4 separate regions of the Homo sapiens genome follow, and all the other regions are reported to be linked to region 4. Evidence: microRNA targets listed by miRTarBase, many of them from high-throughput screens and not tested one by one. Region 4 holds a microRNA gene; each other region holds the end of a gene's coding sequence.

What was found. The annotated mature microRNA hsa-miR-3202 reads UGGAAGGGAGAAGAGCUUUAAU and lies in region 4 at 3,265-3,286, shown strand. An mRNA with a match to its seed (bases 2 to 7 or 8) in the 3' UTR can be bound and repressed. Matches are read on the target gene's strand: a 7mer-m8 pairs with bases 2 to 8, a 7mer-A1 pairs with bases 2 to 7 and ends in A, and an 8mer does both.
Region 1: the mRNA of MARVELD1 is a reported target of hsa-miR-3202. Seed matches in the 3' UTR shown: 7mer-m8 at 798-804, 7mer-m8 at 1,061-1,067, 7mer-m8 at 1,146-1,152, 7mer-m8 at 1,180-1,186 and 7mer-m8 at 3,696-3,702.
Region 2: miRTarBase lists BICRA as a target of hsa-miR-3202. Seed matches in the 3' UTR shown: 7mer-m8 at 776-782 and 7mer-A1 at 1,179-1,185.
Region 3: miRTarBase lists SLC48A1 as a target of hsa-miR-3202. Seed matches in the 3' UTR shown: 7mer-A1 at 1,480-1,486 and 7mer-m8 at 2,240-2,246.

What each region holds. Positions count from the first base shown.
Region 1 is chr10:97,713,667-97,718,736 of GRCh38, forward strand. It overlaps MARVELD1 (MARVEL domain containing 1), which reads left to right and starts at 64. Exons shown (of 2, transcript NM_031484.4): 1 at 64-2,319; 2 at 3,528-4,484. The coding sequence starts at 211. The coding sequence ends at 732. RefSeq lists an enhancer at 376-425 and a silencer at 736-955.
Region 2 is chr19:47,701,655-47,706,724 of GRCh38, forward strand. BICRA (BRD4 interacting chromatin remodeling complex associated protein) reads left to right here. Exons shown (of 15, transcript NM_001394372.1): 15 at 1-1,623. The coding sequence ends at 761. Among named protein-coding and RNA genes, the nearest start is that of EHD2, 9.2 kb to the right of the region's middle.
Region 3 is chr12:47,779,342-47,784,411 of GRCh38, forward strand. It overlaps SLC48A1 (solute carrier family 48 member 1), which reads left to right. Exons shown (of 3, transcript NM_017842.3): 3 at 804-3,410. The coding sequence ends at 940. HDAC7 (histone deacetylase 7) reads right to left here. Exons shown (of 26, transcript NM_015401.5): 25 at 4,738-4,876; 26 at 3,381-4,545. The coding sequence ends at 4,500. Among named protein-coding and RNA genes, the nearest start is that of SLC48A1, 8.6 kb to the left of the region's middle. RefSeq lists a silencer at 195-244.
Region 4 is chrX:153,979,364-153,984,433 of GRCh38, reverse strand. It overlaps MIR3202-2 (microRNA 3202-2), which reads left to right and starts at 3,258; the gene lies at 3,258-3,336. It overlaps TMEM187 (transmembrane protein 187), which reads right to left. Exons shown (of 2, transcript NM_003492.3): 2 at 1,240-2,584. The coding sequence starts at 2,371. The coding sequence ends at 1,586. MIR3202-1 (microRNA 3202-1) reads right to left here and starts at 3,337; the gene lies at 3,257-3,337. RefSeq lists enhancers at 1-43, 3,851-3,960.

The sequences.
Region 1 (5,070 bases), not on the chromosome of region 4:
AGCTGGAGACAGAAGGCGAGGAGGGCCGAGGGGAGGAGAGAGGAGAGGAAGGGTGGGGAAAGGAGGAGAGGAAGAGAGGACTAAGAGGGGAGCAAGGCGAGGAGGCCGCGGCGGGCGCAGCGGGCACCTGGGCCGTGCTGCCCCCGCGAGCAAGGCGCCGCCATTCCGCTGCTCGGGGCGCCGCCGCCGCCGCCACCGCGCCCAGGGGCCATGCTCCCGCCGCCCCCGCGCCAGCCGCCGCCCCAGGCGCGTGCGGCCCGCGGCGCGGTGCGCCTGCAGCGGCCCTTCCTGCGCAGCCCGCTGGGCGTGTTGCGGCTGCTGCAGCTGCTGGCCGGCGCTGCCTTCTGGATCACTATCGCCACCAGCAAGTACCAGGGCCCCGTGCACTTCGCGCTCTTCGTGTCCGTGCTCTTCTGGCTGCTCACCCTGGGCCTCTACTTCCTCACGCTGCTGGGCAAGCACGAGCTGGTCCCCGTGCTGGGCTCGCGCTGGCTCATGGTCAACGTGGCGCACGATGTGCTGGCGGCCGCGCTCTACGGCGCCGCCACCGGCATCATGAGCGACCAGATGCAGCGCCACAGCTACTGCAACCTCAAGGATTACCCGCTCCCCTGCGCCTACCACGCCTTCCTGGCGGCCGCCGTCTGCGGCGGCGTCTGCCACGGCCTCTACCTGCTTTCGGCGCTCTATGGCTGCGGGCGTCGCTGCCAGGGCAAGCAGGAGGTGGCGTGAGGCCGCCCGCGCCCGCCGCGGCCCCGATCGGGGCGGGGGAATCCCCGGAGACCAGCCTCCTTAATCCCTTCCCCCGCCGCCGCCCCGCGCGGGTGCGCCCTGGCACCCTCTCCCTGCCCTCCAGCGTTTCCACTGTCGCCCGCGCCCGGGAACCCTGACGCTCAGCTCCCGCCCGACGGCAGCGCCGCCGCCGCCCAGAATCCCAGCCCAGAATCCCGACCGCCGCGCCGGACGCGCCGTCTCCCGGGACAAGCGCAGGCTGCGATCCGAGGGGCTGACACACACTCGCAGACGAGCCGCCCCGAGGCGAAACCTCGCGGTTCCTCTTCCCTTCCCTGCTGAGACTAAGACGTGGACAGGGGCCGCGCAGATCCGGGGGAGGCTCCCAAATTGGAACCAGGCTTCTGGCTGCCCCCTTCCCTCCCGCCCCGTGGTCGGAAGAGCACTCCCTTCCCTGGCCCCTCATCCAGCCTCCGGTGCTGTAAAACGCAGGCGCTGGGCCGCGGGCGGAGCTGAGGACAGGCCTTGGCTGGTCCCAGGATGAGCGACGAGTTTGGTTTTAGCTGGGGATTGTGCTGGCATCCTGCGAAGCTCCTCCCAGCCGGTCTCTCTGTGCTCGGTTGTCTTGGGGTGGGGCCCATCCGCCGAGGTGGGGACCGATAGGAGAAGCCGGTGGGTTGTACCCTTACACTTGTGGAGTCTCCTCTTGCCTCTACCTACTCCGCCTTTGTCCTTAAGGTTTTTGCAGGCCAGTGCCAAACACACACTAACTGTCCTGGCCTCTCCGTGACACAAGTCTCTTCCCAGCCTTCCTCACAGGCTTCTGCCGCCCCCCTCATCTCCACCCTCCCCCATATCTGTTTGCATTAGGAGTTCCACGACCATGGTGGAATGTTAAGGTGAACCCCACCCCTTCTTACAGATGGGGACCCAGAGCCTGCTCTTGGGAACAGCCAGAGTAAGATTGGAACCCAGACTTGCAGTCCAGCGCTGTTTGCATTAAAAGGGTGGGTGAGTCAGGACCCCTGGCTCAGGAGCCGCCTCTCCTAAAAGAGGGTTTCAAGGCCAAATGGGTTTGTCAACGGTGCTGTCTCCCTTTCTTGGAGATGCTCATTAGCTTATCAAAGACTGAGAAGTCCCGCTGTTACAGAAATAATTTAGTTTGCTGTATTAACTGCTCCTGGGCCTGGAGCAGTATTCCCACCTTAAGATTCCCAGCATCCCTGTGCTGTCCCGGCTCTCATTCATGCCGAAGGGCCCAACCCATTGGCTGTGTTCTGTTTGAAGATTTGGGGGGCGCCTTCTCTTTCTTCCCCAGGGAATTCTCTAGCAGAGGGAGGGGACCCACCCCAGTGAGGAAGTAGATTGCTGCCTCTAGCCAGAGACCTGAACTGGGGAATTTGAACATTCCTTTACATTGTTGGAGAAATGAAGCCAAAGTTATTCAGATGGTTTTCCCAGGCTAAAGGAAAGTCACCTGCAAGAGATCCCGGCACTGATCTGGAGCAGCTGACAGGGTGGGTCTCCCTTACCAAAGAGAAGAACCACTCTCTGGCGCTGGGGTGACCTGCTGGCTGGGCCTGTAAGGTAAGACGCTTCTTGGTTTTCTGGAAGGGGTCCTGGGCATTTGAATAAAAAGCACAGAGCCTACTCCTTTTCCAGAAGTTAAAGGGTTTTTATTCAGAGCAAGTTGGAGAGGTGACGGTAATAACCACAATATCTACAGAGTTGTGAAAATTCAACCTTTTTGCTAAATCCTTCAATGGTCTGCTCTTTTATTTTTTCTTTCTCTTTTGTTTTGTTTTTGAGGCAGTCTTACTGGGTCACCCACGCTGGAGTGCAGTGATGTGATTATGGCTCAATGCAGTCTCGACCTCCCAGACTGAAGCGATCCTCTCACCTCAGCCTCCCGGGTAGCTGGGACTACAGGCACATACCACCATGCCTGGCTAGTTTTTAAATTTTTGTAGAGACAGGGCCCCATTGTATTTTGCATGCTGGTCTCGAACTCCTGGGCTCAAGAGATCCTCCCGTCTCAGCCTCCCAGAGTGTTGGGATTACAGATCTCAGCCACTGTGCCTGGCCAGGTCTGCTGTTTGAAAAGGCTCAACCTTCTCTGGATTAGAAACTAGAAGAGGGGAGGCTGCGTGTTTTTGTGAGCTTGTTTTTAAAGCTTAGGTGCACAGGTGTTAGCTTTCTCTGTGGAGGCTGCAAAGGTGTAGTTTCAGGGTGTGTGAAGCATGAATGTAGTTCTAGATATGTTGCCATCAGAGCACCTATGTAGCTCTATTATATGGTTGGCACGTCTCAAAGCATTTTATAGGTGTCCATTGATTCTCTCAGTAACCCTAATGAGGTGGGTTCTAATGTCATTGCCATATTCCAAATGAGGAGGTTGAATCCCAGAGAGGTTAAATACCTTGCCCAAGGTCTCCCAGCTAATGAGTGGTAGAGGTAGGATTTGAACCCTGGCAGCCTGGCCTCTTCATGACCAGGCTATACTCTATATAGTAGGGTATCAATACATGTTAGATACTGTTAATGTAGCTATTTTTTAAATTGTGGTAAAATATACATAAAATTTACCATCTTAACCATTTTTAAGTGTATAGTTCAGTGGCATTAAGAACATTCACAGCTAGTCGCAGTGGCTCATGTCTGTAATCCCAGCACTTTGGGGGGCCGAGGCTTGAGACTAGGAGTCCCCTCAGCCCCAAGTGCTGGTGCAGTGAGAGCCTGGGGTGAGACACTTGGGGTGCTTTGGAAGCCCTTTGACTTTGGTTCTCCTGTTGCAGGTTTCCATGTTGCTGAGGCCATGGAGATTCCCAGAGCTGGTCACACCGACCGCTCTCAGGGCCCGCTGCCCTGGGCTGGCAACACCATTCTGGCCTTGGCCTGCAGAAGCTTTCAGAGTCTTCACTGGCAGTAGGGGGAGATGGGGAGAGGAATGATCTCTGCCCAGCCCCTTCCTTTCCAAACCATGCAATGGAAGAGCCCAGATGGGTGAAGATTGATTTTGCCTTAACTCAAGAGAATTCCTGTTCTCCTTGTGCTATGATTTGGACACAAGATTCTGGATACCTGGAACTTAGCTGTGTACTCCTGTACCCTAAACAGTGGATTTGAGTTCCAGCGTTTATTCTTTTTTCCTTTTTTCAGATCACCATCTAAGTTACATCTTTAGCTCAGGTCCATCCTTCTCAAGATCTCCTTCTTAGCCCCCCAGCCCCTGGTGCTGTCTGTGGTCAGGTGACCTTACTCAGGAGCAGATATCTCCTTGGCCGCCATGGAGCCTCATCCATCCACACGTGCCTGTAGCATTCCAGAGCTCACTGCCCTTCTAGATGTGCCTTCCCGCTTGGCTTCCAGCGGCTTGTGCTCACTCTGTCTGCCAGGTATGAGAAGAACACGTAAGACCGCCACCACACTCACCCTCCCTCAAGGCCCTGTGCCATAGGGGTGGCCACCCGACCTGCCCCCAGAACTTTTGGATACTGGAGGCAGTTGCATAGGTCTCCCTCTCTGGGCACCAGGACTCAGTCCAGCCCAAGACTACTCTGGGCAGCTCCCATCCCAGTCTGGGGCCATTTGCAGACTCAGGAAAGGATTTCTACAGTGTTCTATAAAAGCCAAAAGAGAGAGTGGGTTTGGGAAGAGTGAGGGTGGTTGGGGAGAGGGGACCGATGTGCCTCATTGTTTAGTGGTGATTACAAATATGCTTTTCTGGATAAAGTTTGGTTGTTTGCTCTTGGTGTGTGTGTCTTCTGTCCTGGTCCTCTGTAGCGTCCCTCCATGTGAGGTCCTCCCATTCTATCTCATTGTGCCTCACGCCCTGCTGCTGGCCTCCTTTCTGCCTCTCTGGCTTCCTCTTTCCTTCTAGGAGGGAAAGAGAGTGAGTTCACAGATCTCTAGTGCAGTTAGGAGCTTGGGCCAGGGGTTGCCTGAGGACAGAAACCAGAGGGAAGAAAACTGCCTGTGTCCCTGATGGAGGCTGGAGGGAATTCCAGAGGCTTTTGTCCCTGCTCTCAATGGGCCCTCTGTTAGGGAGCTCCACTGCCTCTCATTCTGTGCGCAGAAAGACCGTGGTTGTGGAGCTAGAGGGTCCTGTTCTAGTCCAACCCCATCGTTTTACAGAAGAGGAAATGAAGTCCAGGGCGTGGTGGCAACCTGCCTGATGCTACACAGCTGATTAGGGGCAGAGTTGGGGTCTCCCGTAGCCAGGCCCTGTTTTTTTCCCTGCACACCACTGTGGCCTGCTCTGGTGTTGCCTCCTGGACCACACCCCACCTGCCTTTCACCCGATTCCCCAGAGATTCTTTGTCCAGCCAGCTGCTGGCT
Region 2 (5,070 bases), not on the chromosome of region 4:
TCAAGCTCAAGATCAAGCAGGAAGCCGGGCTCAGCAAGGTCGTGCACAACACGGCCCTGGACCCCGTGCACCAGCCCCCGCCACCCCCCGCTACCCTCAAGGTGGCCGAGCCCCCGCCACGGCCGCCACCACCACCGCCGCCCACGGGCCAGATGAACGGCACGGTGGACCACCCGCCGCCTGCCGCCCCCGAGCGCAAGCCCCTGGGCACCGCCCCGCACTGCCCGCGCCTGCCACTGCGCAAGACCTACCGCGAGAACGTGGGGGGCCCTGGCGCGCCGGAGGGGACGCCCGCAGGCAGGGCACGGGGAGGCAGCCCGGCGCCGCTGCCCGCCAAAGTGGACGAGGCCACCAGCGGGCTCATCCGCGAGCTGGCGGCCGTGGAGGACGAGCTGTACCAGCGTATGCTGAAGGGCCCCCCGCCAGAGCCCGCAGCCAGCGCCGCCCAAGGCACCGGGGACCCCGACTGGGAGGCGCCCGGGCTGCCCCCTGCCAAGCGGCGCAAGTCCGAGTCGCCCGACGTGGACCAGGCCAGCTTCTCCAGCGACAGCCCGCAGGATGACACGCTCACCGAGCACCTGCAGAGCGCCATCGACAGCATCCTGAACCTGCAGCAGGCCCCCGGCCGGACGCCCGCGCCCTCGTACCCCCACGCTGCCTCGGCCGGCACCCCCGCATCCCCGCCGCCCCTGCACAGGCCCGAGGCCTACCCACCCTCCAGTCACAACGGTGGCCTCGGCGCCAGGACGTTGACCAGATAACACCGGGCCGCCTCCCCTTCCCCGTCCCCTCCTCCCGAAGACGCCGGGACAGTCGGGTGTCCGCCCTCAGCCTCCTGGGGACTCGAGCCGGGGATCCCCTGACGGTTTTTCTTGCCTAAGTTATTTGAGTCACAAAGGCCTCCTTCCCTGCCGCCTGCTTCAGCTGGGTTGCTGGGGGGTGGGCGTGGATTTAGGGAGGGGGCTGTGATGTAAAACGTCTCCCCTGCCAAAGGAGGGGCAAAGTGCTGTGTCAGTTCCTGTTTCTTCCCATTTCCTGGCACACTCTGCCCCTCTGTCCGGGGGACACGCGCATGTGTTTGCCAGGGATGGGGCCACCGGGTTGATGCCAACGCTCCGGGTGCCTGTCTTGTCTGTGTGGCTTCTCAGATGGTGGAGGGTGCTGGGAGCTGGCAGGGTCCTTCCAGACAGTCTCAGCCTCTCCCCGCCGCCCCCAACAGGCTGTCAAACAAAACCGGAGAGGGGGTGGGGGAGCCAGCCTCCCAGCGTGCTGTGCCCGCAGGCACCCGTGTGACATCCGCACGTCCAGCTCCGTGACCTGTGTGTGTGTGTGTGTGCACAAGTGAGTGAGAGATTTCGAACGCCCACCCCTCGACTTTGAAATCTGAGCAAAACAAGAAACTGGGGTCTTCCTCTCCCCCGAACCTCTCCCCAGCTAGTCTTCCCTCTGTTCTTCCTGCCTCCAGCCGCCCGCGCCAGATTTTGAAATCTCGGAGACAAAACTAGTACTGTAAGATAAATTTTTTTGTACTGTATTTATTGTGTATAACGATTTTTTTAAAGGAGAATTCTGTACATTTAGAACTCTTGTAAATTAAAAACCGATCCTTTTTTTAAAACTGTACTCATGCCCCCTTGGCCCATTGCTTTTGGGTTTGTGAGGGTGGGGGAGTGTTTGGATCTGGGATTGTGAGGCCTTCTTCCGCATGCATCTGTTGAGCACCTGCTGAGTACCAGGCCCCGTTCTAGGCTCAGGGGGTTCAACATGAACAAGGCAGACAAGAGTCCCTGCTAAGCCGGTAAGCTGACTTGTTAGTGGGGAAGGCGGGTGGTAAACAGCTAAGCCAGATCAAGCCAGTTCTTCTTATTTCCGGTAAGGTTCTATAATCTCTGCATACACTCTGAGAATTAGTGAATACTGAGCCATTGCCCCCAGGGAGACAGGGTTAGGTTTCTAAGGGCCTCTGATCACCACAGTTCAGTCAATACATCACCTTAGTTTACATGTGTTGCTGTTTAAAAACACTTCTTTATGTATTTTTGAGACGGGCTCACTCTGTCACCCAGGCTGGAGTGCAGTGGCACGATCGTGGCTCACTGCAGCCTTGATCTCCCAGGCTCAAGTGATCCTCCCACCTCAGCCTCCCGAGTAGCTGGGATTATAGGCGCACCACCACGCTTAGCTATTTTTTTTTTTAATCTTTCTGTAGCAATGGGATCTCACTATGTTGCCCAAGCTGGTCTGGAACTCCACGGCTCGAGTGATCCTCTGGCCTTGGCCTCTCAAAGTGCTGGGAATACAGACGTGAGCCACCACGCCCAGCCCTAAAGATACCTTATTTCATTTATATTGTTGATTCATTCACATTGAAGTCATGCCAACAGCATTATAACTGGAACCTGGAGCAAGCCTATTTCACACATATATTTTATCTTTTCTCCAAAGGCACATCACAGCTTCTTGGTGCTTTAAGGTCACTAGACCGCACTTCAGCTGTACGCTTGGGCCCATTTTAAACAATGAGTCACCAACAAAAAGCACAAAAATGTGAAAAGCGTGGGACTAGATAAACCAAGAAAAGGACGCGTGTTTATGGTACGAGAGCCAAAACGAGGGCAGAATGTCGCCTTATTCAACCTCAGCTGGGAACGAACGTCTGTGTTGGGCAACTTGATATTTTGCTGCCGTGTGTGTGTTGAGAGTCTTGACTTGGGGGTTACAAAGAAGTTTTGATGAGCAGATAAATGCACAAATATGGCATTTGCAAATAGTGAGGGTCCACTGTAAATGTATACAGTGTCAGATGCCCATATAAAGAAGAATCAGGCCAGGCACGGTGGCTCACACCTGTAATCCCAGCACTTTGGGAGGCCAAATCGAGTGGGTCACCTGAGGTCAGGAGTTCGAGACCTGCCTGGCCAACATAGTGAAACCCCATCTCTACTTATAAAAAATATATATATATACAAAAATTAGCTGGCATGGTGGCACACGCCTGTAGTCCCAGCTTCTTCAGAGGCTGAGGCAGGAGAATCGCCTGAACCCAGGAGATGGAGGTTGCAGTGAGACGAGACTGACACTCCAGCCTGGGCAACAGAGTGAGACTCTATCCCCCGACCAACAAAAAAAAAGAAGAAAAAAAATCATGCTAGGTGTATTAGTCCCCTCAAGCTGCTATAACAAAATGCCCCAAATAGGGCAGCTTAAAACAACAGATATTTATTCTCCCACAGCCCTAGAGGCCTGAAGTCTGAAAACAAGGTGGCATCAGGGCCATGCCCACTCCAGAGGTGCTAGGGAAGGATCCTTCCTTGTCTCTGCCAGTTTCTGGTGGCCCCAGGTTCTCCTTGGCTTGTGGCTGAATCAGTCCAATCTCTGGCTGACTTCCCACTGTATCTCTTCTCTTCTAAGGGCATCAGTCATATTGGAGTTTTGCCCATCCTACCAGTATGCCCTTGTCATAACTTAATCATATCTGCAAAGATCCTGATTCCCTTTTTTTTTTCTTCTAGCTTTCTTTTTCTTTTTCTTTTTTTGAGACAGATGTCTTGCTCTGTCGCCCAGGCTGGAGTGCAGTGGCACGATCTCAGCTCACTGCAATCTCTGCCTCCAGGGTTTAAGTGATTCTCCTGCCTCAGCCTCCCGAGTAACTGGGACTACAAGCATGTGCCACCACGCCCAGCTGATTTTTTGTATTTTTAGTAGAGACGGAGTTTCACTGTGTTAGCCAGGATGGTCTCAATCTCCTGATGGCATGATCCACCGGCCTCAGCCTCCCAAAGTGCTGGTATTACAGGCGTGAACCACCGCGCCCAGCCCTTCTAGCTTTCTTCAGATCACAGACCCTGATTCCAAATAAAATTACATTCACAGGCACTAGGGTTAGGACATCAGCCTATATTTTGAGAGGACAGAACAACTCAATCCGTAATGCAGGGTAAGGAGGTGGGTGTCACAAGTGAGTGACAATTATCTGGGCTGGTGGTGTGGGGGTAAAAGAATTTACCAAGACAGTGGTAGGTTAAAAAAAAAAAAAAAAAAGCAGATTTATGGGCTCACGCCTGTAATCCCAACTCTTTGGGAGGTGGGCGGATCACTTGAGGTCAGGAGTTCAAGACCAGCCTGACTAACAGTGAAACCCCATCTCTACTAAAAATACAAAAATTGGCTAGGTGCAGTGGCTCACGCCTGTAATCCCAGCACTTCGGGAGGCTGAGGTGGGTAAATGACCTGAGGTCAGGAGCTTGAGACCAGCCTGGCCAACTTGGCAAAACCCTGCCTCTACTAAAAAATACAAAAATTAGCCAGGTGTGGCGGCAGGCACCTGTAATCCCAGCTACTCAGGAGGCTGAGGCAAGAGAATCACTTGAACCCAGGAGGCAGAGGTTGCAGTGAGTTGAGATCGCGTCATTGCACTCCAGCCTGGGTAACAAGAGTGAAACTCCATCGAAAAAAGGTAATAAATAAATAAAAATACAAAATTAGCAGGGCGTGGTGATGCACACCTGTAGTCTCAGCTACTTGGGAACTGGGAGGATCACTTCAGCCCAGGAGGCAGAGGTTACAGTGAGCCAAGACTGCACCACTGCACTCCAGCCTGGGCAACAGAGTGAGACTCCATCAAAAAAAAAAAAAAGGCAGATTTATGAAATAAAGTAGGAAAATATATTGCAAAGTTGCAATGGGCAACACAGCCAGGGAGAAGCTGACTGCAAGGAAACAAAGGCTTGCTGGGGGTTGTATAGGATGGAGTTGGTTTTTTCATTTGCTTTTTAGATAGAGTCTCGCTCTGTCACCCAGGCTGGAGTGCAGTGGCATGATTTCAGCTCACTGCAACCTCCGCATCTCGGGTTCAAGCAATTCTCCTGCCTCAGCCTCCTGAGTAGCTGGGATTACAGGCACCCATCACCATGCCCAGCTAATTTTTGTATTTTTAGTCGAGATGGGGTTTCACCATGTTGGCCAGGCTGGTCTCGAACTCCTGACCTCAAGTGATCCGTCTGCCTCTGCCTCCCAAAGTGCTGGGATTACAGGCGTGAGCCACCATGCCCGGCATATAGGAGAGTTCAT
Region 3 (5,070 bases), not on the chromosome of region 4:
GTGGAGAAAACAAGTCCCCACCTCGCAAGTTGGGTGGATTCTATGAAACTGATGTGAAGTCTTGAGCAGTGCATAGCCCATACAAGCACTCCTGATATTGGGACCCATTAGTCTGTGCTCAGCTCTGGGATGGGAGCGCCCTCTGGTGGCTGTGGCTGGAAATAACCAGAGGTCCTTCTTCCGGGAGTCTGATGCTAACTAAAGCAGGTTGGAGGTGGCCTAGGGTATTTGTCACAAAAGCGGAGTGGATGATACAGACCTGTGATTGGCCAGCCCTGCCCTTCCCTAATCCCCACGGCCTCCTGCCTGAAAACCCTGGAATACTCTAAAACGGTCCCCAGCTCCGTTCTACTGTTCCAGGCTGTGGAACAGTAGTGGTCCGTGGCCTGTTAGGAACCAGGCCACACAGCAGGTGAGGGGCAAGCGAGCCTTACCGCCTGAGCTCTGCCTCCTGTCAGGTCAGCGGCGGGCATTAGAAGCGCAAACCCTGTTGTGAGGCGCATGCGAGGGTTGCGTGCCCCTGATGATCTAATGTTTGACGATCTGAGGTGGAACAGTTTCATCCCCAAACCATCCCAAGGTTTTTGTGGAAAAATTGTCTTCCACAAAACCAGTCCCTGGTGCCAAAAAGGTTGGGGACCATGGCTCTAAAACCTCCATCACAGTGTCTTTCTGAAGGGTTGGTTCAGCTGCCAGGACGTTGCAGGGATGTTGAGTGGGGAGGGTGGCCCTGGCCTTGTGGCCGGTGCAGAGGCCGAGGGCAGGGCCTGCCAAAGTCACTGTCGGTACTTCTCTCCCTGCAGGCCTCACAGACCCCACCAGCTACTACCTCTCCAGCGTCTGGAGCTTCATTTCCTTCAAGTGGGCCTTCCTGCTCAGCCTCTATGCCCACCGCTACCGGGCTGACTTTGCTGACATCAGCATCCTCAGCGATTTCTGACCCAGGGGGTGAGGTCTCTGCACCCTGGGGGGGCCTTAGGACCTGGACTCAGCCTCTGAGATGTTGGGAGAGGCTACTCCCACCCCCTGGTGACCCCAGAACTGTGGCAGAAAATACACAGCAGGACGAGTGTGGTCTCCCAGGAAGCTGTCCTGCCCGTCCCCTTTCGAGGAAACCTGAGTGTGGTAGAGAGGGGATCCTGCCATGTTGCTCCTCATCAGCCTGGCCAGAGGGCAGCTTTAGACCTTTTCAAATGAATCTGTTTTCTTTTCTTTCTTTTTTTTTTCTTTTTTTTTTTTTTTTGAGATGGAGTCTTACTCTGTCACCCAGGCTGGAGTGCAGTAGTGCGATCTCAGCTCACTGCAACCTCCGCCTCCCAGGTTCAAGCAATTCTCCTGCCTTGGCCTCTCAAGTAGCTGGGATTACAGGCATCTGCCACCATGCCCGGCAAATTTTTGTGTTTTTAGTAGAGACAGGGTTTTGCCATGTTGGCCAGGCTGGTCTCGAACTCCTGATCTCAGGTGATTCACCCGCCTCAGCCTTCCAAAGTGCTGGGATTATAGGTGTGAGCCACCGTGCCCGGCCTGGATCTGTTTTCTTAGCACGCAGTGAGGAATCTTTGTACTTAAGGCCAGGGCAACAAAGTCAAGAGGTCAAGGTGTAGGGCCATGAGGCCTGGACCTATGCTGCAGGCAAGGGTTTCCATCCCCGCTGCCCTAGGCACTCTCTTCCCAAGGCCAGGTTGGGCACCTGGGGAGGTCAGTTCAGAAATATCTAGCAGAGACCTCTTAAACCCCCATCCCAGCACCCCATCCTGTTGTTCCCAGAGCTGGTCTCCCATGAGTGTGCTAGAGCCAGATAGCCGTGGCCCCCCACCCATCTCACTCACACACACAGGCATCCATACACCCCAGAAGACTTCCCAAATGAGGCCAGACTCAGGGTCACGGGGAATGTGCTTCTGCCCCTGTAAGGGCTTTGGGGAAGGGGGCAACATAGTAGAGGCTGGAAAGAGCCCCCAAACCTGTACCCATGCCCCTCCAGCCCTGCGTTTCCATTCTGCCTTCTCAGAGTGCCCTTGCTGCACCCAGACCACCGGCCAGGAGAGACCTTCTCTCCCACTCCAGCCCCTCTCACTGCCCTTCAACTAGAGCTTTCACCTTTTTACATTTCCCTTCTGAAGGACACAAATCTGCTTTTCTGCCCATACACTGGCCCAAGGGCTCACCTAACTTGGGAGGGAAGGGGCTGTTGGTACAAGGATGATTTTCTGTTAGACTGCCATTTTGCACGGTCTCCCCCTTCCCATCTGATGTGTCCTGCCCCTCAGCTCTTTGCCTTATCTGTGTCACTGTCACTTTAGCAAAAATACAGCGGCCATTTGTATCAGCCTCTGGTGGTTGCTTGTGAGGTGGGACTCTTGCGGGAACAGGTGGACTTTGGGAGGAGTGGGCAGGGAGGGAGTGGTAGTGGCAGTTCTCGAGCTATCTGATTAAGCCATTCCGCTAGTTCAGTTGTGCCCTGGAGGGCAGGGGACAGAGTCAGTATCTCTGGGGCTGCAGGCCCTCTTGCCTTGGCCCTCCTGGCATGGGGTAACCACCAGCTCAGCTCTCCTCCTCCAGCTTTCCTCTCTCTAGCACACCCCAGCCAGGGCAAGGATGCCCACGGGCATAGCTACAGCAACCCCTGCGGGATTTGGTGTCCACACCCGAGAGGCCAGGCCAGATGGGAAAGGGATTAGCGCCTCTTCCCTCACACTCTGCCAGGCTGCCAGGAGCTTGGGCCAGGTCTAAGGTAATGAGGTGCTCCTCTTCCTGCTGGAAAAACCGGACAGACTCAGAACCACAAAGGCAGGTGCTGCCAGCCTGGCGCCTTCCTCTCTGCTTAGGCTGGGTGAGCTTGTCCAGGCCTGTGCCTCACCCCTTCTCTCTTCTAGGCTCAGTGTATGCTTAATCAGGCATGGTGCATCAGAGCGGGAAGGAGCCATCAACAGTGTATACTTCTGGAGCCTTCTACTGATAAACAGAGGCCCCAGAAGACGATTTGACTTACCTGAGCTCCCAGCTGGGACTTAAACCCAGGTGTGTCTGAGTCACAACTCTTCGGGGATGCCGTGGTGAGCTGGGGCTGAGCTCCTGTATTCCCACTCCCCCACCCCACCCCCACTCCTGCCATATCAGGGCTGGTCTCTGTGGACTCAGCCCAGGGCTGCCTCCTCTTTGTCACCCCAAAGTGGGGCAGCCAGGGACAGCCAGGGTGTGTTCAGAATGGGTTCTTCCTGCAGGGCAGGAAGGGCAGATTGTTAAAGGGGCTGCGGCCCAGACCACCCTGGTCCCTCCTCCGGCAGTGACTCAGACCCACACTGTGCCGTGCAGCTGTGTGCCCTGCACACCCGCTTGACGGCGCACTGCTCACTTCTGGGGGGCCCTTTCAGAGGCACTTTTAAAGCAAATAAAACATTTATTGTTCAGATTTTTTTCCATTTTCTTCCTTTTTACAAAAACATGCATACATACACAGGGTATGGTGGGTCCTAGGAAAGACACACACACACGCCTCACTCACACACACGCTCACACACACGCCTCACTCACACACATGCTCACACACATTTTCCTTCTTGACCCCAGGCCTGGACCCCCAAAAGCCTTGAAGACTTTGCCAGAGCAGCCTCCCCTCCTCCATGTCTGTATCTTCTCTCCCACCCCTTCCCCCTCAGTCAGGCTACTCCTATGTGGGGTGGGAATCAGAGCTATGGTGGGGGAGGCCCCAGAAACAGAGAAGGCTCCCCGAGTGGGCAGTGGCCGAGGGGTCCCAGGGGTATGCTGCGCTTCTTGGGGAGATGAAGGGTTTGGCACCATTGGATCAGGAAGCACAGGACTCCCAGAGCACCCATCTGCTCCACCAGGGCATCGCCAGGAGGTTGATGTAGGGGGGCCTCTGGCGAGGGTACGGACCAGATGGAGGGCTGCCAGTCTCGGCTGTCAGGGAGCTTCGTCTCAGTGCCCAGTGGTAGAGGGAAGCTTCCAGAGTCGTCTGAGGAAGCAGGTGAGAGGGACTACCCCTGCACTCAGGAATATGGGACCTCTTGGCTCCCCACTCCCCCCTAGCCCCTAGAGCCTAGGAAGGGCCAGCCTGTCTGAGGCCAAGTTCACATTTCTGTGTGGAGCCTGAGGCTGTGTGCAAAGTCTGGGGTTTGCAGAGCCAGGAATAGTGGTTAAGGGTGAGCCCGACGGAGCCGGAGCCAGTCCTCCTCTGTGCAGTCCTGAGGAATGGGGGCCACAGCCAGGGCCCATACTGGAGGGGAGAATCTGTTCTCGAGAGCCCTGTGGGGGTCGCCGCCCAGCCCGTCTCCTCTCAGGGTCCTCTCCAGTTCCCATTCTAGACCCAGGGATTTTCTCACGCTCCCTGGGATAACTGTCAAAGCAGGCAGGCTGTTCTCTGGTTCCAACTACTTGCCCACAGGATCTCTAAAGACCCAGGAATGGGGGCTATTGCCAGGGGTTAGAAGAGAACCAGGTCCCAAGGGCATGGTGGGCGGGCAGATGGTTCCAGAGCCTTAGAGATTCATAGGTTCTTCCTCCTCCACCAGCTGCTCCGAGGGCCTGTGGGGAGGGACAAGGGTGGGATGCTGGAGCACCAGGGCTGCAGCAAGGGCCTTAGCTAAGCTTCCTCTCAACCCTGGTCAGGAAGCCTGGGAGGGTTGGGGTGGCTGCATAGCGGACCCGGGGTCTTCAAGCAGGGAGGAATGAAGCGGTGGAGAGGCTGTGGGCCCAGGGCCAGGGGTCTGGCATTACCTATCTTCAGCCAGGATGCCCACAGAGAGGGACGCCAGTGCGGTCACTGCCTCCACTTCTTCTTTGTCAGCCCCTGGCACTCTAGGCACCCAGGAGTCTGGACAGGAGGCCAGGCGCTGCATGCAGCCCCAGTATTTACCTGGGGTAAGATGCCAGGTCAGAAAGGGTTGGAGAAAGCAAGCCCCTCCACACTGCGTCCTAGACCGGATATTGAGGTTGGTGTCTCAGGCCCAGGGCCCCGGAGGAGCGGGCCTGTCCTCCACTTAGGGTCGGCTCTCCCACCTGCCCCTCTCCTCACTTCGCTCCCACTCCCGCACAGCCTGACAGGGTACA
Region 4 (5,070 bases):
TCTCAGTCATCACAGTCGTGGGCCGAATGCCAACCTCGAGGGCACTGAGCAGGTGCACATGGGTGGCCCATGCTGAGATGCCATTTGGCAGGGACAGGGCATCCTCTCTCCTCTGCCCTCACCTTTGGAGCTGGTCACTTCTCCATTTAATTTGTGGGCTTAAAGCAGACCCTCCTTAGTACTTAAGGCTCCAGGGACAAGACTATGGAGTCTGGGATGAAGAGCCCCTGAGTTAAATGACATTACCTGTCTTCAGGAGTCCCCTTTACAGGCCGGGCGCGGGAGCTCATGCCTGTAATCCCAGCACTGGGAGGCCGAAGCGGGCGGATCACCTGAGGTCAGGAGTTAGAGACTAGCCTGGCCAACATGATGAAACCCCGTCTCTACTAAAAATACAAAAATTAGCCGGGCGTGGTGGTGGGTGCCTGTAATCCCAGCTACTCAGGCAGCTGAGGCAGGAGAATCGCTTGAACCCGGGAGGCAGAGGTTGCAGTGAGCCAAGATCACACCATTGCACTCCAGCCTGGGCAACAGAGCAAGACTCTGTCTCGAAAAAAGGAAGTCCCCTTTACAGACCAGATGCCTTCAGATGAAAGGAGGTGAGGCAGGCCTCTAAGTAACATAGTGACCGGCAGGAAGGACTGTCCCGGGAGTAGAGAGGGTGGCACGGAGTCCTCAGTGCCTCTCTGGCTGCGGCTAAGAATGACCCAGCATCCTGACCACAAACTAGAGAGTCTGGGCCTTGGGCTCGAGGGCTCAAAAACTGTTGCCTGCATGAGAAGCACGTGCCGCCTCCAGCACAGTGCCTGACGATACTGTCAGCAGACTGGTTCGCAAGGACCTGGGTGACGGGCAGGTGGGGACTGCTCAGACTGTAGCCACTAAGGGCATCTAAGCCACACCCTGGCTCTGAGGGGAGACCCACAAAGCAACTTTCTGTTGAGAGTTCAACTTTTGACATTTGTGTGTTTCCTCATCTGGATGCACACTGCCTGGTTCCACAGACGATCTGAGGTGATGTGGCTCTCACGTGACCTGCCTACAGTTAACAGTCACAGATGTCATGGGGATAATTGAGTGATTTCCCCATCAGTCTGCTGGGCACGTATTTAGTGTGACTCAGTCTCCCTGAATCCAGCCGCCTCTAAGGACACTCACTGGTACCCCACTGACTGGCCTGCCTCACTGCTGCCAGTCCACACCCAGAGCTGACACCCCAAAGATACTCCAGACGATCGCTCTCTGTCCAACCATGAGCATGAGGGGCTTCTTGGTGTCATTTCCACTCCCCTTGCCAATATTTATTTGGAAACATTTCAAACTACAGAAAAGTTATGCAAATTACATCAGGAACACACACATCCCCTGTGCGGAGATCTGTGCTTTATGTCTTTGAAAGTAAGTTGTCGAGATCACAGCACTCCACCCCTCCACACCGAAGCCCGCAGCTTCTCAGGAAAGGGCAGTCTTGTGTGATCAGTGCATATCATCACACACAGGATGTCTGACACTGGCACCACGCTGCCATCTCAGAGTCCATTTCAATGCTGGGGGTCATCGGTTTTCAGCAGGTTCTTCCCTGGGTTCAACGCGTCTTCCCGCCAGAGGGATGGAATCTTGGGTGAGTGTTGAAATGCGTCAGAAACAAAAACGCAAAGTGGAACTGGAGCACGTCACAGACCTTGGACCAGAAGTGGCCTGTGAGGCACTGGAAGAGACGCCACCGTGCGAGCTGATGGTCACACAGCTTGAGGACCACAAAGCCCAGGCAAGAGAGCACCCCCAAAGCTAAGTAGGTAGCCGAGGTGGTGCTGCCATAGTGCCTGTGGGTGCGCAGCGCCTGCCCCACAGCGGCCACCACGTGAGCACCCAGTGCGACCTCGAAGCCCTGGGGATGCAGCAGAGCGAGGCCATAACTGGCCAGGGAGACGCACTCAAGAGAGAGGAACAGCCAGGGCCGCCAGCCGCGGTCTAGGTAGAGGCACCAGGCCACGGGCCATGCAAAGATGGGCAGTGTGAGCCACTGGTCCAGCACCGCGGCACGGCGCCACTGCGTCCACAGGCGCAGCCACTGCACGGGGCCATAGAGCAGGGCCATGGCTGCGAACACGTCCTTCAGGTAGCGGGGACCCAGCCCCATCGCGCCGCCCCTGTGCAGCCACGACAGCCCCAGCAGCGTGTAGGCCATGTTCACGAGTGAGTTGAACGGCATGGCCAGGAAGGCAGGGAGGCCGGCCACGGGCGCCTCGGCGTAGTGCTCATAGCCCACTTGCACGGAAACACTGTCGAAAATGCCCGTGAACACAGCCACGGCACAGAGGCCACCGGCCACGGCCACGTGCACGAAGGCCTGCCCCCACTCTGGATTCATCTGGAACCGGCGGCGTGACCTGGGGCAGGGAGCTTCAGAGAGCAGCCTTCAATACGCAGCCTCTGCAGAACACTCTGGGCCTCCCGGCTGAGCCAGCAGAAAGAAGCCCCGTGATTTCGTGATTTCCGAGGCAGATGCTGCGACCTTGCCCCGAAGGAAGGCAGGAGTCCTGCTGATTGGCTGGCGCCAGCGGAGGAACGTTCTGCCTTTTTCCTTTGTGGTTACAAAAGGAGTGTGGTTAGAAAACAAACCGTCCCCAGCACCGCCTCCATGTTCCTGACCCCCGGCCTCAGGAGCTACCAACCATCTTCACTGGAGAAGCAAATCAGAGTGAAACCGCTGCACACTGACTCTCTCAAGCCTCTAGAATCCTCTATCACCCCTTTCTCCTGGCACCTAGGAAAATCCTGCCCATCGTCCTAGTTTCCTTAAAGCCACTGCATCTACAGACAAGACCTGTCTAGCTCTGTCATTACAACTCAGAATGCGCCTTCCCATGTCAGTGTGTTATAAAAGTGGACGTCTCCAGCCCCAAAGCCCTTTTCACCAAATACCCAGCTGAACTAGAGACCATTAGATGGAGTCCGAGCTCTGGCCTCTGACACAAGGTGGGGGATGGAGGAGGAGGAGGATTCACCGTCTGCCACTCAAGCACCAGGCCGGGAGGCAAGGGGGTGACCCGCAGGCTTCCCAGGCCAGCTTCCCTGGCTCACTCGCCTGCCCTCTCCTGAAGTGCCAAGCCCCAAATCACCTTCTTTCCTCAGGCCACCATAAAGCCTTCTGTCTCCTTCAGTCACAGAACCAGAGAGACAATTTAATTACCACTGACTGTCAACTGCTTTGGGGCCACTGGTGCTGTAAGTGAGCCCTAGTAGCTGAGAAATACATTAATATGGAAGGGAGAAGAGCTTTAATGCTCTGAAAATGACTCCAATCATTAAAGCTCTTCTCCCTTCCATATTAATAAATTTCGCACTCAAGAGGGTGGGCGGGTAGGCGGGCTCAGGGAGAGAGAAGGGTGGGCTCCAGTTCCTGGTCAGCTGATGCCAGACTGTTCAAACCTTGGCTCTCCCACTTACTAACCATGTGATCTTGCACCTTAACTGTCTTGGGCCTCGGTTTGTGCACCTTTTTTTTTTTTTTTGAGACGGAGTCTCACTCTGTTGCCCAGGCTAGAGTGCAGTGGCACAATCTTGGCTCACTGCAACCTCCGCCTCCCAGGTTCAGGTGATTCTCCTGCCTCAGCCTCCCTAGTAGCGGTGATTAGAGGCGTGTACCACCATGCCCGGCTAACTTTTCTATTTTTAGTAGAGTTGGGGTTTCACCACGTTGGCCAGGCTGGTCTTGAACTCCTGACCTCAAGTGATCCACCCGCCTCAGCCTCCCAAAGTGCTGGGATTCACAGGTATGAGCCACTGTGCCCAGCCCGGTTAGCTCACCTTTGACCTAATCGCTTAGAAGTTCCAGGCCTGGGAGGGATCTTAGAAACCATCTGTGCCAGCCCCGGCATTTCACAGATAAAGAAACTGAAACTCTAGCAGTTTGACTTGGCTGAAAGTTACAGTGAGGAGGAGCAGAAACCCAGGCATGCCGCCTCCTGGCCCCAGGTGCTCTCTGCTCACCTCCCTGGAAGAAGCGCCAGGAGGGCTTCCACGTGGCTTCTTCCTTGCTTTCTGCTGCCATGGCCTGGGTATTTTTATTTAGACACGGGGGTCTTGCTCTGTTGCCCAGGCTGGGGTGCAGTGGCACAATCACAGCTCACTGCAGCCTCCACCTCCTGGGCCCAAGCTATCCTCCTGCCTCAGCCTCCCAAGTAGTTGGGACCAGGGATATACCACCACCTTGCCCTGCTAATTTTTTTTTTTTTTTTTGAGACGGAGTCTTGCTCTGTTGCCCAGGCTGGAGTGCAGTGGTGCGATCTTGGCTCACTGCAAGCTCCATCTCCCGGGTTCACGCCATTCTCCTACCTCAGCCTCCCTACCACAGCGCCCGGCCTGCCCTGCTAATTTTTGTTAAAAAAATTTTGGGCCAGGCATGGTGGCTCATGCCTGTAATCCCAGCACTTTGGGAGGCCAAGGCGGGTGGATCACGAGGTCAGGAGATCGAGAGCATCCTGGCTAACACGGTGAAACCCCGTCTCTACTAAAACAATACAAAAAATAGCCAGGCGTGGTGGTGGGCGCCTGTTGTCCCAGCTACTCGGGAGGCTGAGGCAGGAGAATGGCGTGAACCCTGGAGGCGGAGCTTGCAGTGAGCTGAGATCGCGCCACTGCACTCCAACCTGGGCGACAGAGCGCGACTCCATCTAAAAAAAAAAAAAAAAAAAAATTGTAGAGACAGGGTCTCACCATGTTGCCCAGCCTGGTCTCGAACTCTTGGCCTCAAGTGATCCTCCTGCCTTGGCCTCCCAAAGTCCTGAGATTACAGGAGTGAGCCACTGCACCCAGCTAAACCCCTCTTAAGTTGAAAGTCCAGTTCCTATATTTTCGACTTATGATGGGTTTATCTGGACATTACCCTGTTATACATCAAAAAGCATATGTAGCTGGGCATGGTGGCTCACATCTGTAATCCCAGCAATTTGGAAGGCCAAGGTGAGAGGACTGCTTGAGTCCAGGAGTTTGAGACCAGCCTGGGCAACAAAGTGAGACCCTGTCTCTACACAAAATACATAAAATTAAATTTAAAAAATAAAATAA